4 linked regions of the Homo sapiens genome follow. The protein of the gene in region 1 purifies or fractionates together with the protein of each later gene. This does not show direct contact. Each region holds a gene or a part of one and is shown in the gene's direction. Other genes may lie near its edges.

Region 1 (3,500 bases):
CCCCCCATTTTGCCTCTGTCCGTGCCCCTTCCCTGGGTTTGGGAGCCAGGACTCCCAGAACCTCTAAGTGCTGCTGTGGAGTGAGGTGTATTGGTGTTGCAGCCGCAGAGAAATGCCCCAGTGTTATTTATTCCCCAGTGACTCCAGGGTGACAAGGCCTGCTTGACTTTCCAGAATGACCTTGAGTTAACAGGACAGTTGATGGAGCCCCAGGGTTTACATGAAGCAGAACCTTCTTTGGTTCCATGTTGACTGACTTATGGCATGACTCTTCAACCCCGAGGTCCCTGTTGTCAGATCTATTGTTTGTTGCACTAAAATGAGGATCCAGGGCAGCAGGCCAGAGAAAGCAAAGGTGCACTCCAGACTCTGGGGGTGGACATCTGACCCCAAGGGGGCTGCTGCTCCTCTCTTGGGTAGGGTAGTGGCTGGGGTGGAGTGGGAAGGGAGCATTGCAGCCTAAGAAGAAGGCCAGAGAGGGAAAAGGCAGGTGCTTTTGGCAGAGACCATAAGAGAAACCTGCCAAGGAGCATCCTTGGCAGTGGGAATGTTCTTTCTGCTCTATACTGTGGCCTGCAGGAGGGTTGGAGTGCTCTTCCCACTCCAGCTGACAGCCACACCGTGGCAGCTTGCTGGGCTTTGGGAAGTTTGCTGTGCTTTGGAACAATCACAGGGAATGGCCACAAACCTGCCCGCCTAAGACCCTGAATCCGTACTTGGGTCACATGACTCTCATTTTATTTACAGCTGTGCTCCACACTCAGAAAATTCCCTGGGGTCACCTTCTAGTTGCCCCCATTCCCAGCCTGACTAGAACTCCTGTCTTCTTTCTCCATGGAGCCTACCTCTGTCTGAGACAGGTGCCTAACCTGGGACCTGTGGTCATGTGAGTCTGGGATATTCTTTAGCTTACCTGGGCACAAACAGAATTTTCCATTTATTAAGCAGTACAAATGTTTTTCATCCATTCCTAATCAAATTCTGTCTGGGGACGAAGGGTTGGACGGGATGACCTCCAGAAGTCCCTTCAATTTCTAGTACCTGTGACTCTTAGCCCTCACCACAGCCTTCTAAATTCCCAAATCCTAGACTGCTCCTGGGCATTAGCAAGGCAGAGCCTTTTTACCTGGCCTAGAAAGGGCAAGGGGTGAGGATAGGACAGAGGGATTTTGTTCAAGTTTGCTGCAACCCAAGTGGACGTTAGGCCAGGCCTTATCTGAAAGGCCAGCAGCTGATGCTGTACTAACCCAGTCTTTCTTCACTCTGGCTTCAAAAAGCCACAGCAGAGCATTGTCACCGCAGGTGCTCATGCTGCTCCCCTAAAGCCAGGCTCAGGAGAAGCCAGTGTCTAGGCACTGAGCAGGGATCTGCCCCCTAGTTCAGGTCCAAATTCACCTTCCCCTAAACCCCAAGCTTCCCAACAGATCATATGGTAGGACCCTCGAGAGCCTTACTTCAAAGTGCCTGGGCTCAGCCTGGTTTCTGGGTGCTAGATCCAGCCCAAACCTGGGAAGGCCAGCCTTGTACAGTCTGCTCCTCTTGTTCCTGAAATGTGTTTCCTTTTCAGGAGATGGGGAATAATTTCCTTCAGGCAGCTGAAATTCACCAAGAACAGCGGGTACTTATTTCTCAGCTGTGCCTTCCCTTTCTAAGCAACCACACTGCTTGGCCCTTCAAGGGTCAGGGTGAGACGTGATGGGCTAGGCCTCCGTTGTCTGGTTGCTAATGACAGCCTTGCAACCCAAGGTGAGGTGAACTCCAGGCATGTGTCTGGCCCTAACTCCTATAAAGTGCCTCGGACAGTCCGCAGTTGTAGCAGAAACCAACAAGAACCACTCCTTCATGTTTGGAAAATAATTTCTCTTGTATTATCTCCTTTGAAGAAGGCAAGGCTGATAATATGACAAACATCATTGTTTAGATGAGGCTCAGAGAGGTAGCACTCTCAGAGTGTTTTGACCAGTTTAAGCCGCAGACCTGGAGCTTCAGCCAGGTCTGACTCCAAAGCTGTTCCATTACACCACAGCATTGTGTGGAATTTGAGGTCTAGAGAGAACCAATAAAAGTGGTAATTGGGAACTGAAATCCTTGAGAGTTCCGGGGAGAAACCCAGAGATGCCTGATTTCATTCCTCGATGGTAATACCCGTCCTCTCGGCTGCCAGGGGCTCTGTGGCAAAAAGAGTCAGACATTTCTTTGGAAAACAGCGAACAGCCTTAGAGCTCTTGTGTTCAGAAGAATCTTCCTGGCACAATGTTGGAGCAGCAGGCCTCTGGGACCCACAGAACTTGTGGCCTTTATGTTCTTTCACCCATCCTAGGAACCAGCCAACCATCATGTGTAGAGCCCCTACTGTGGGCAAAGTCCTCCTTTCATTACCCTACAGACAGCTTACAGGAGCCAGCCTGCTTCCCACAACTACTAGTGTGACTCCTTATCTCTTTCCACCATACCTTAGAGACTTTGATACTACCAGGGTCTCTCAGGGATGGAGGGAAGACCTGAAAGAGAGGACTGGTTCTGAGGCCAGAAAGGTGTGAGGAGAGAGGAGGAAAAGTCTTCCTAATTGTGCCCCTAAAGAGCATCCTGATACCATTCTATTCTCCAGACATGGAGGGGATGATAAAGGAAATAGGATCTCCACTGGACCCTTGATTCATTCTGAACCCTCCAAAGGAACTCTAGAGGGCGAGGGATGATGAGGGAAGCAATAGGTAGCTGGGGAGCCCTATTGCTGCTAAGTCATTGGCAAAGTGACAAAGCAATTTACTGATGAGAGAATGTGGAAATAGATGTGCAGTTTGGAATTATGTTGGTGTGAATTTGCCAGAGGACCAATGCTTGCATGGAGAATGGGACGAGGACATTTGTGGGCAAGCAGATGACAGAGGTTTGAAGGAGAATGGCATGGCAGGAGTCTCTGCCAGTTACTTGGGCTTCAACAGCCAAGCTGGCACAAAAGACAGCTGGCGGAGGCTGCTCGGCTACTGGTTACCTGGAGAAGTAGTATTTGCCTATTTCCCCCTTCATCCATCCTGAGCCAAATTTCTTTTGCTGAACAGGAAAGAGCTAGGAACCCTGGAGGTAAACAAAGACTTTGATCCATGTATGAGTGTATGTGTTTATGTAACTTCCTGTGGATGCAAATAGATTCAGAGAAATTTAGAGCTAAAAAGGCCCTTAGAGGGAATCTAGCCCAACCTACATTCCACCCTGTTACTTATGTAGAAACTGAGGCCCAGAGAGGGAAGATGACCTGCCCCAAGTGGTGAGCAAGCACCAACCTCCAGACTCAGCAGAGTGAGGGGGTAAAGCAGTTCCTGTCCCACATGGCCATCTTCTTTCTTCCACCCACAAACTCCAGGCTGGAAGTACTTGGCCCCCTTCAGGAGCCTGGCCAGGCAGGGAGAGAGTAGCTGCAGCCTTCATCAGAACTCTTCCTCCTCCCAAGGCATTCTCCCAGCTCTAGCCTCTGGACTGGAAAGCACAAGACTGGCCCA
Region 2 (3,500 bases), on another chromosome or scaffold:
GAAGTCCTTTAAATTGCTTCGTCTGAGGAAAAGAAGAGGGTAAAGGCAGTTCTTAATCAGATATGTTCTAGTAAGTGAAGATGTTTGTAGAAATAGCTGTGTCAATGATATTTGATAGTCACTAATCTGTCTTGAGCTTATTAACAAATTGTAAGGCTGGGCGTGGTGGCTCACTCCTATAACCCCAGAACTTTGGGAGGCCGAGGTGGGCAGATCACTTGAGGTCGGGAGTTCGAGACCAGCCTGATCAACATGCTGAAACCCCATCTCTACTAAAAATACAAAATTAGCTGGATGTGGTGGCATGCGCCTGTAGTTCCAGTTACTCGGGAAGCTGAGGCAGGAGAATCGCTTGAACCTGGGAGGCGTAAATTGCAGTAAGCCGAGATCGCACCACTGCACTTCAGCCTGGGCAACAGGGCAAGACTCTGTCTCAAAACAAAAACAAAAACCAAAACAACTCTGTGGCATCAGGGAGGAATCACTTTTTATTGGTCACCCAGAAGACGGATTTGTTTTCTCGCAAATCATAAGAAATAGTATTGAATCATTTATGAAACGTATTTGAAAGAGGGCAAGGAAACCTAAAAGATTATTATTACTTATTACTGTTATTACATTAAGTATTTCAATATTATTATATGCAAACTAGCTGAGGACACTTAGCTAGGAGGAGACCATGATCTCATCGTTTTGGAAGCCCGTGGGCAGATGTCATAGTCTCCACCTGTGGAGCTGCAGCGGTATGAATTAAGACCAATGGGTAGAAGCCCTGGAGGGAAAATTTGGGCTCCACACAAGGAATAACTTTCAAATAGTCACCACAGTTTGGCAGAATTGTCTGCTTTGGAAGCACTGATTGGATGGCTCCAATCAAAGCCCAGGCAACTGCTTAGCATGGAACGCTGAAATGGAATCTAAAACATCGTAGCAGAGGCTTAACTGGATGACCTCCAAATCTTCTCCAGCCCTAAGTATTGATGAAGCTATGAAATTCTATTCTTAAAACTGGCATTCTATCCAGTTTTCCTTGTTAGGTTCCTAAGTTGAATCCAATTTCATCAGAAACTATTTAAAAATAATGCGTTTTTCTCATATACTTTTCACCATCAAATCTAACTTACAAAGTGTTTCCCCACATTCCCTAAGCCATTCTTTCACATATTTTACAAAAGACCTATTGTGACCTTTTATTGTACAGAAGAGCTATTATTATCTGCCTTGGAAACTCTGCTAGATAGGCCCTAGGGGTAGAAGGGTGAACAGAACAAGGTCCTGGACTATGAGGAGCTTGGACAGAACAGCTAGTAAATACGCTGTAAGAAGAGAACAGTATATGTTTTGTAGCAGGGAATCAAGGAAGACTTCTATAAGCTCAGACCTAGAAGCAAAGACGATAGCCAGGCATAGAAAAAATGGCCCTGGCTGGGCGTGGTGGCTCACGCCTATAATCCCTGCACTTTTGGAGGCCTAGGTGGGTGGATCACCTGAGGTCAGGAGTTGGAGACCAGCCTGGCCAACATGGTGAAACCCCATCTCTACTAAAAATACAAAAATTAGCCTGGCGTGGTGGCACGCACCTGTAATCCCAGCTGCTCGGGAGCCTGAGGCAGGGGAATCGCTTGAACCCAGGAGGTGGAGGCTGCAGTTGCAGTGAGCTGAGATCACTCCACCACACTGTAACCTGGGCGACAAGAGTGAGACTCTGTCTTAAAAAAAAAAAAAAAAAAAAAAAAGAAGAAGAAGAAAAAGAAAGAAAGGCCCTGACAAAAGGACCAGAGCACAGAGTCCTGAAAACCTCAAGGGAGCAGCAAACAATTGCCTTCCCCTATCATTACTTTATATCCTGGTATTTTCCATCTCCAAAATGTTAGCATTCCATCAAAGCATTTTTTTTTAAACTAAGGAACCTATGTCAATGGGTAGACAGTGAAGATAAAATTATTGAAATATTACCTCACTATTCTAGTATTCAATTCAGCAGACATTTAATCTATTTCATCATTCAGTATCCAAACTCCCTTTTCCAAGGTATTGTTCTCTCAAAATAAGCTAACACAAAGTAAGTTCTCTTTGCTCCTTTGTAATAGGAAACATCAACGCCAGCGTCCCTTCCTCTGATGGAAAAGTACTAGAAAACCTCTCCAGTCTTCAGGCCGTAGCGGCATCTAGTGGCCACAGTGGGAAATGACCAGAACTTTTTCCTCAGCTAAATTAGCCCAGGCTGTGAATCATTCTTTGCTACACGTGGAGATCATCTATTGATCGTTACAAACTACTAACATCTGTGTTTCAGGAGTTTTAAGAGCTCCCCAGGTGATTCTAACGTGCAGCAGCAGAGTTTGGGAGTTCCTGGCCTAGACGTCTTTTTGCAGATTGAATCTCAGAAAAAAAAAATGCCTACCTATGAACAAGTCATTAGAGCTGGCCGATTCTCATGCTTATTATGAATTACTTTAAAGGGTCTCAGTTCTCAAGGAGTATTTAGCAACATCCTTTTAAGGATGCAAGGATGTTCGAAGCTTCATATATATTGGTTCCAGCTCTTGAATTTCTTTCCCTTAATGAGAAACAAGATTACAATCATTTCTTGTGGTCAACAGATGTGAAAGCTTTGTATGTGTGTCGATTTGTTAAGTATCAGGATTGTTTTCCTTGGCCGGGCACGGTGGCTCAGTCCTGTAATCCTAGCACTTGGGGAGGCCGAGGCGGGCAGATCACCTGAGGTCAGGGGTTCGAAACCAGCCTGGCCAACATGGCGAAACCCCGTCTCTACTAAAATTACAAAAATTAGCCAGGCATGGTGGCATATGCCTGTAATCCCAGCTACTGGGGAGGCTGAGGCAGGAGAATCACTTGAATCCAGGAGGTGGAGGTTGCTGTAACCCGAGATCGCACCACTGCACTCCAACCTGGGCAACAGAGTGAGACTCTGTCTTGAAAAAAAAAAAAAAGATTGTTTTCCTTATATTTGTAAAGTAGTACTTGGGCTTTTTATTTAGATGTGGCAGCAACTTAATTTTCTGTTATTTAGTATATCTAGTCCTTTTAGTTGCCTTTTTGTAAACATTTTTTATTACAAGCTCTTGCATGAAAGGGGCTTTGTTTTCAATTCATAAAATAGTTATTTATTTAACTTACTGTGCGCAGGCACTGTGTTAAAGACCGCCTATGGGGAATGCACACTAGTAGGATATAATTCCTATTTTCAAGGAGCTTGAAGTCAAATTGGAGAAATAATACAAGGACCCAACTAATTAAACCACAAGGCAAGTTTTGGTAAGAATCCTTAGCAGCAAATGCGTGGTTTGAGGGATATCAAAAAGCAATCCAAAAAGGCTTCTTTGAGGAGATGGCATTTGAAAAAAAGCTTTAAAAGATCAATTTCTTTAGGGAGAGGCATTTTAGACAGAGAAAGGCTTCATCCATTTACACATTTACTCATCAAAGAAAATAGAACTCTTGCCACATGTCAGTGGCTTTTCTGAGCACTGAAAATA
Region 3 (3,500 bases), on another chromosome or scaffold:
CTGAACTCGTGATCCACCAGCCTCGGCCTCCCAAAGTGTTGAGATTACAGGTGTGAGCCACCACGCCTGGCCATATTTAATATTCTTTAATATAACACTTTGATGCTGATCAAAACACTTTAGATATTTATCAAATTAATCTGACTTAATACTGTACATGGTTACTTGACTGCAAACCATTCCTTTGAAGAACCATTCCCTTCATTTTTATAAAACAATAAAGTTGGTATCTCCTCCACTTCATTCCCTGCTGTTCATGAGAATCTAATAAATATCTGATATTCTACAAAAACCTCTATTCCTTGCAACCACACAGGTATAGTCATATATTTTTAGAATCACTTGATAGAATAGAGTTGATCGATTTTAATCTGTTTCAAATGCAGGTAATTTTATCATGCTGTTATTCAGTTTGTGTTTATTTTATATTCATTATTTGATGGTTTTGATTTAGCTTTTATTTAACCATGAAAATGCTAAAATTGTCCTTGCTCATACTCAAAAGTTTCCTTCAGATATATATTATCATTTCCAATTTAATATCATGTATAACAGGAAGAATTTTAAAGTCATGCTTAGTCTTATTTCACTAATATTAAATATTTTGATTCTTATTTACATGAAAATTCTTTCACTCTTACAAATCTTTTAGATTTTGACCTAATTAGTCATCATATTATTACAGTGATAACTTGCTACTTAAGACCATGGAAACTTAATTTCACATCTGTAACCAGAGATATATTTCCGTTTTTAAATGTGTATTACACTTAGACTAGAGATTTTTGGCATTGCCATGAAACACTCGATATGATAAATTTTTTGCATCTTCCAGCTGTGGTACAGGGCAGTATTTTCTTGTCACTGACCTAAGACTGTTTGACACCCCTCCTCCCCTAGTAAAAAGAAGTAGTGGGTGTCTTTGATGTTGTGCACAGCTGGAAGAAGATATCTCCTGAGTTGAGATTTAGACTTCTTTCCTCACCATCTTAAATCACTGTCTGACTTTAGAAAGGCATATGTATGGTGTTTTAAACATTCTTTGTTGTTCGTTTTCTTCTCTTAGCAAACTTCTCAATAGAATTTTATTCCCACTCTTCCTGGCATTGTTTATAAATGTCAGTTTTTGAACGTGGCCAGTAATAGTTTGATTTAATTTTTTAAAAAAAGATAGACTATTCAAAACTGTTGTGTTCCAGAAGTTGTTAAGATATTTTGTGATAAAATTAGTATTCATGTAACTTAAGGACTATTTGTGTCTAATAGAGTTGCTGATAGAATGAATTGGGAAATGTATATAAAGAATTGTGATCATGGAGAAGGGTATTATAAATCATATTACTATTTCTTATGTAGTAATTATGAAAATAATTACCTTATTAGAAAGTAGTATATGATTTTTAACATATTTTATCTATGACACTTTCCGTACATAATGGCTAAGAATATTTCTTCTGAAGATAATTCAAATAGTTGTATTCAGCATAGAAAATTAAGATTTTTGAAACAGTCATCTGAAAATTCTTAGTAGACAGATAATAAAAGTGATAGAAAAATTGTATCCCATATTTGGAGTATTTCCATGTGCTTTATAAAACTTTGCCCATCATATGTGCAATATAATTATTGTAAACAGATTTACTAATTTTTAGAAATTATAAAAATAATTTAATGTATGTAAAAGCATTTTGTTTCTTCCTTGTATATGTATTTTATTTAAGGCACACGAAGTATTATGCTTAGAGATGCTCACTTTGCTCCTGGAAAGACCAACAGATGATAGCGTTGAAGTAGCTATTGGTTTTCTTAAGGAATGTGGCCTCAAATTAACACAAGTGTCACCAAGAGGAATCAATGGTAAGTGTACATTCATAGTTTGATGTTAAGTTTTTATTATATTTATTGCTTATTTTATTGTCTTTTCTTTCTGTTAACTTTTAGCTATATTTGAACGCCTTCGAAACATTCTGCATGAGTCTGAAATTGACAAAAGAGTTCAATATATGATTGAAGTGATGTTTGCTGTACGGAAAGATGGATTCAAGGACCACCCCATTATCCTAGAAGGTCTTGATTTGGTGGAAGAAGATGATCAATTCACTCATATGCTCCCTCTGGAGGATGACTATAATCCAGAAGATGTTCTTAGTAAGTCCGGGGCATGTTAGTTGGAAAGAGGCTTACCAACAAATGTAAATATAGAAAATAAACATTAACTTTTACATTTTTTTTAGATGTTTTCAAGATGGATCCTAATTTTATGGAGAATGAAGAGAAGTACAAAGCTATTAAGAAAGGTATGTAAAATTTTATAAAATAATTTAGTTTGGATAAGTAGAAGCAATTTAAGTAGTTACGTAATACTGATAGCAAATATTTAGAGATCCCCACCTAATGAATCGCTGCTCTTATAAAGTTATTCTCTTAGCTGTTTCCTCGGGCATTATTTTTTTCCTGGTGCTTGCCCAGGGTTTTTTACTTCATTCTGAATTACTTACCCCATTGTTCTTTCCTCTTTCCCTCTAAACTATGCAACACTTACGTCTCACCCATCTTAAGAAATATTCATAGATTAGTGGTGGCCTTTATTTAGCTTCTCTACCATTTACATTCTGTGCCACCCAGTTTAGTATTCAATTAAGTGGTATACTTTATTGTAAAGTGCTATACTTTATTGTTTCTTGAGGTCAGGTTAATATCCTTCTGGTAGGATGAATCATAGTATTGGTGCCTCTCTGATAAAATAAATTGATCATTTTCATTTGTACATCATTGGTATATTGTAAGTACTAACTTTGGACAGGTTTTGATGTGTAATTTATCTTTGACATTACTAGCTGAGTGACCTGTAGCAAGTTACTTGTTTGTTGGAAGACTAAATGTTACCTTTCTATGGAAGGATATATAAAACACAGTGTTGTGTATTATCACCTACAATGATAGCTATTATTAGTTACTATTTTCACATTTGTATTATTTTCCTCCTAAAGCTAACACTCAGGCCTACTTACATAATAATTTTATGGGCTTATTTCTCTTGAGTTGTAATTTTACTGGAGAAGTATTTATTGCTGTGGAAGCAATAAAATTTACCTTTGTATTAAACCCCAAAAGTTTGTATTAAAAGCTCTCTGATTATAATAGAAATGTAAAGAGTTGGTTAGCTTTGCAAAATCTTTTATCAGGCTAACAGCACCATTGGGCAAAATGTAATTTTAGTTTTTGTCATTTGTTTGCTTTTAACATAAAGACCAGCCTTATGTAGTCTCATATACAGAGAAAGCAGAAACCTAGAACTCTGTCTCTGTCTGCATTCCATTGTTCAGTAGTGCTTAGAAGTAGAAGGTTGAAATGAAAAGTAAAATTGGGAGAAATCTTCCATTCCTCTGCATTATCCTAAAAACCTGTTATAATAATGAGTTTCTCTTCTTAGATGCTGATTTCCTAGGAGCTTTTCACTGTAATATGCCAGATTCTTTTTTTCTGTTATAATTTCATTT
Region 4 (3,500 bases), on another chromosome or scaffold:
GGAGGATCACTTGAGCCCAGAAAGTCAAGGCTGCAGTGAGCTGTGATCTTACCACTGCACTCCAGCCTGGGTGACAGAACAAGACTCTTGTGTCAAAAAAAAGTGATGTTTACGTGTTTAAACTCTGTTTATGGATAGAGAGGAAAAGATGGGTGGCAGGCACATACATTCTACCTGGCACCTGAAGGCTGGAGGTCGATATGAAGGTAGATAGTGCGCTGTGGCAGGACATGGATAAATGTTACTCTGCTGTTCTGAGTTGCAGTTCTCTGTTTCAGTGATTAAGGAGAAATGCCTCAATTGATCACTGGAATAGCAATGGTGGGTTCCGACTGCCAGAGGGAGGCGAGGAGGTTTGGATGTGTGCTCTTGTAGAAAAGGGCTGTGCTACTGGTGTGCAGCCTCAGGTGCATCATAGGTTTCTCGTCACCAGCCTACTCTAGGTCCATGTCATTAGCTTTCTTTGGGTTCTCTCCACAATTACCATCTTCCACGAAAAACTCATTTTTCTCATAGGCCAAGCAAAAAGTAGGCCGGAGCACTTCATCAAATCCTTAATGACTGTTGAGCTCTAACCTGGACAGAGAACACTGACTCACAGGCACTGTTAACCCCAGGCCTTGCCTGGCTGTGGCCTCTAACTCCCCGGAACCACAGGGCCTGCCTCTGTGTCATGGCTGATTTAGGGTGGCTCATGCTGGTGGCTGTATCTCAGGAACCCAAGGCAAGGTGGTTCCCTCCATCCCTACCACCTTCTCCAAAATCTGCCTGGGGTCTGTCAGAGGTTTGGTAGCCAAGATGTGTCTCCATGTTCCAGCTGCAGAGCCTGAGTTGAAGTAAATAAAATCACTCTTTTCTCTTCAGGAAGAGATTCCGTTTTGTAAAACATCCTAAGTTAGAAGCCTTAAAAATCCTACTCTGTGCCCCTCTTTCTATTCCTTTCTTTCTTTCTTTCTTTCTTTTTTGAGACGGAATCTCACTGTGTCACCCAGACTGGAGTGCAGTGGTGCGATCCTGGCTCACTGCAACCTCCGCCCCCCGGGTTCAAGTGATTCTCCTGCCTCAGCCTCCCGAGTAGCTGGGATTACAAGCACCTGCCACTGTGCCTGGCTAATTTTTGTCTTTTTAGTAGAGATGGGGTTTCATCATCTTGGCCAGGCTGATCTTGGACTCCTGACCTCGTGATCCACCCACCTCGACCTCCTAAAGTGCTGGGATTACAGGCATGAGCCACTGCTCCCGGCCTCTGTGCCCCTCTTTCTAAGTGCTGTTCTGAGAATTAGTGACTCTAATTTCACTGGCAAATGCTTTAAAAGGCAGCATTCATACCCTCTCCCTTCCTTCCAGCTGAAGACTAGCCTTTTTCTGGCCAGGAGTGTGAAGCTTTCTGTAGGGCTGTTTTAAAGGCAGCCCTGCCACAAGCCACTAATTGGCATTCCCAAAACATCAGCATTGACATCTGGGAGTCTGCCCTCATCACCACCCACCACTTCTCTGATGTGGCCACTGCCATTGTCTCAAAATGACTTGGTTCCAATTCTGGGGCAATTCGGTACCGATATATGCCATCCTATGACTCTTAGAAGTCTAGGGTATACCAAATATTCCTTTATTTTCTCTGTCTAAACCGAATTCCCTAATTCCCGCCTTGGAGCGTCCCTCTGGATTGGCTGAGTCTCTGTGCACATGCACAGGTGCCTGCCCTTCTCCCTACTAGGTTGTGCCAAGAGTCCATCAGCATGGGGGCCCTCTGGTTGGTGGTCATGAGTCCTCACAGGGAGGCCTCTGCATCCTTATTTGCCTGCCCTCCTGAGGTCCTGCCATAACATACCTGTTCTTCCTGAGGACTTCTGCCGTCTTGAACACTGCCGATAAGTGCCAGCCCTGAAGCTCCGGGGCCCGCAGCCCTGCTGCTCTCACAGATCCCAAGGGAAACTTTTTTCCTAGCCTGGGAGATTCCCTTTCTCCCTCTTCTTCTCCCAGGCCAGTCAGCTTCTTCCTGCAGCTCCTCTCCAATTTCTTTCTCCCCTCAAACCTGTCAGGCTCTTTTGTGAGTGCAGGCTTTTTTCAAGTGAATAATTTGCTGGTTCTGACCAGATATCTACCTCCCCTGAGACAGTGAAACTCAGAATCATTGGCCCCTTCAATGGAGAGAAGACAGAGGGGAAAAGAGAGGAAAATGTGAATTAATTTTATTATATTTTATGGTCATAATGTCATTATGTTCAAATCACAGATACTTATTGTGTCCTGCCTTGTCCTGAGGACTGTGTGAGGCACCAGGAATCCAGATAATGAATGACACACAGCTGGGTCCCCCGAGGATCATAGTCTGATGGGGGAGATAGACGTACCACTGAGATTGTAGGGTGGCGTAAAATGCGGGAAGACAGAACCCAGAACTAGCCCAACAGAGAGGCTCTTAATTGAGGCCACTAGGAGACAGGGAGAACTTAACAGAATATATGGTCCATGCAGGTGGGGATTTTTTTTTCCTGTTTTGCTTATTGTTATAGACCCACAACCTAGAAATGGTGCTCTTGTAATATGACGTTTATTGCTGCATGAATGGATGAATAAGTGAGGAGGTGGTGGAGTCATTGAGAATGTTAGCAGAAGGTCTGTGGGGGATTTGGGAAAACAATATATTTGTCAAGGTGCCAGTGGAAAAGATATGGTGCAGTCATATTGGGTAATTGGAGGAAAGTTTAAGAAGGTGGTTATTTACAAAGGTGTGTGCAGTGCATGGGGAATCCACAAGAGATAGTGTTCTGCCACAGGGGTGATAGCAGTGGGATATGACCAACCCTAGGCCAAAAGGGGCAGGGGAGAGAGCAGTGATTGAAACCGGGAAGGAGGGAGACTCTATGGAGAGGGTCACCTTGAGAAGAACTGTGATCTTCAATTAAGGGACATAGCAGCCCAAGAGGACTGTGCAGGGAGGGAACCAGGAAATGAAATAACATGACCTTACTCTCTTCCCTTCCTCAGTCATCTACTGGGGCTCCTCATGGGTGAACCTCTTTGGAAGCCAGAGAGCGAGGGAGTCTGTTGTTATAGTCCACACAGGCCAGCCTCCTGGGGCATGTAGCCAGTGCAGAGTAGATTGGGAAAGGCAGACCGAGGCCATCCAGACAGTCGCTTTCAGGAAATCAGCACTTGTCTCACAGTGCCTGGACTTGGTCTTGAGGGGCCCTGGAAGTCATGGAACCTTTAGCTGGAAAAGTTATAGCAACACAAAGTTTCTGAAGGACTAAGCAGATATTCTTGTTTTACAAAAATTACCACTTAGCATCCATGGAGTAGCTTTTATGTTCTTTGTCCTTTTAGGCAAATAATCTCCCCAAAGCCATCGCCGCTGCTCACACCTTTCTACTGAAGCATCCTGATGACGAAATGATGAAGAGGAACATGGCATATTATAAGAGCCTGCCTGGTGCCGAGGACTACATTAAAGACCTGGAAACCAAGTCATATGAAGTATGTTTGGATTTTTATGT

The links.
Region 2: the proteins of EDA (region 1) and P3H2 purify together in Homo sapiens (affinity purification with mass spectrometry; 4 studies listed by BioGRID and IntAct, with this or other methods). This does not show direct contact.
Region 3: the proteins of EDA (region 1) and CWC22 purify together in Homo sapiens (affinity purification with mass spectrometry; 4 studies listed by BioGRID and IntAct, with this or other methods). This does not show direct contact.
Region 4: the proteins of EDA (region 1) and CRTAP purify together in Homo sapiens (affinity purification with mass spectrometry; 3 studies listed by BioGRID and IntAct, with this or other methods). This does not show direct contact.

What each region holds. Positions count from the first base shown.
Region 1 is NC_000023.11:70,035,613-70,039,112, forward strand, and holds part of EDA (ectodysplasin-A), read left to right. Parts: 3' UTR 1-3,500. UniProt on the Homo sapiens protein: Cytokine which is involved in epithelial-mesenchymal signaling during morphogenesis of ectodermal organs. Functions as a ligand activating the DEATH-domain containing receptors EDAR and EDA2R. May also play a role in cell adhesion.
Region 2 is NC_000003.12:189,960,398-189,963,897, reverse strand, and holds part of P3H2 (prolyl 3-hydroxylase 2 isoform a precursor), read left to right. Parts: intron 1-3,500. UniProt on the Homo sapiens protein: Prolyl 3-hydroxylase that catalyzes the post-translational formation of 3-hydroxyproline on collagens. Contributes to proline 3-hydroxylation of collagen COL4A1 and COL1A1 in tendons, the eye sclera and in the eye lens capsule.
Region 3 is NC_000002.12:179,969,298-179,972,797, reverse strand, and holds part of CWC22 (pre-mRNA-splicing factor CWC22 homolog), read left to right. Parts: intron 1-1,721; coding exon 1,722-1,857; intron 1,858-1,941; coding exon 1,942-2,148; intron 2,149-2,234; coding exon 2,235-2,297; intron 2,298-3,500. UniProt on the Homo sapiens protein: Required for pre-mRNA splicing as component of the spliceosome. As a component of the minor spliceosome, involved in the splicing of U12-type introns in pre-mRNAs. Promotes exon-junction complex (EJC) assembly.
Region 4 is NC_000003.12:33,117,014-33,120,513, forward strand, and holds part of CRTAP (cartilage-associated protein isoform 1 precursor), read left to right. Parts: intron 1-3,330; coding exon 3,331-3,480; intron 3,481-3,500. UniProt on the Homo sapiens protein: Necessary for efficient 3-hydroxylation of fibrillar collagen prolyl residues.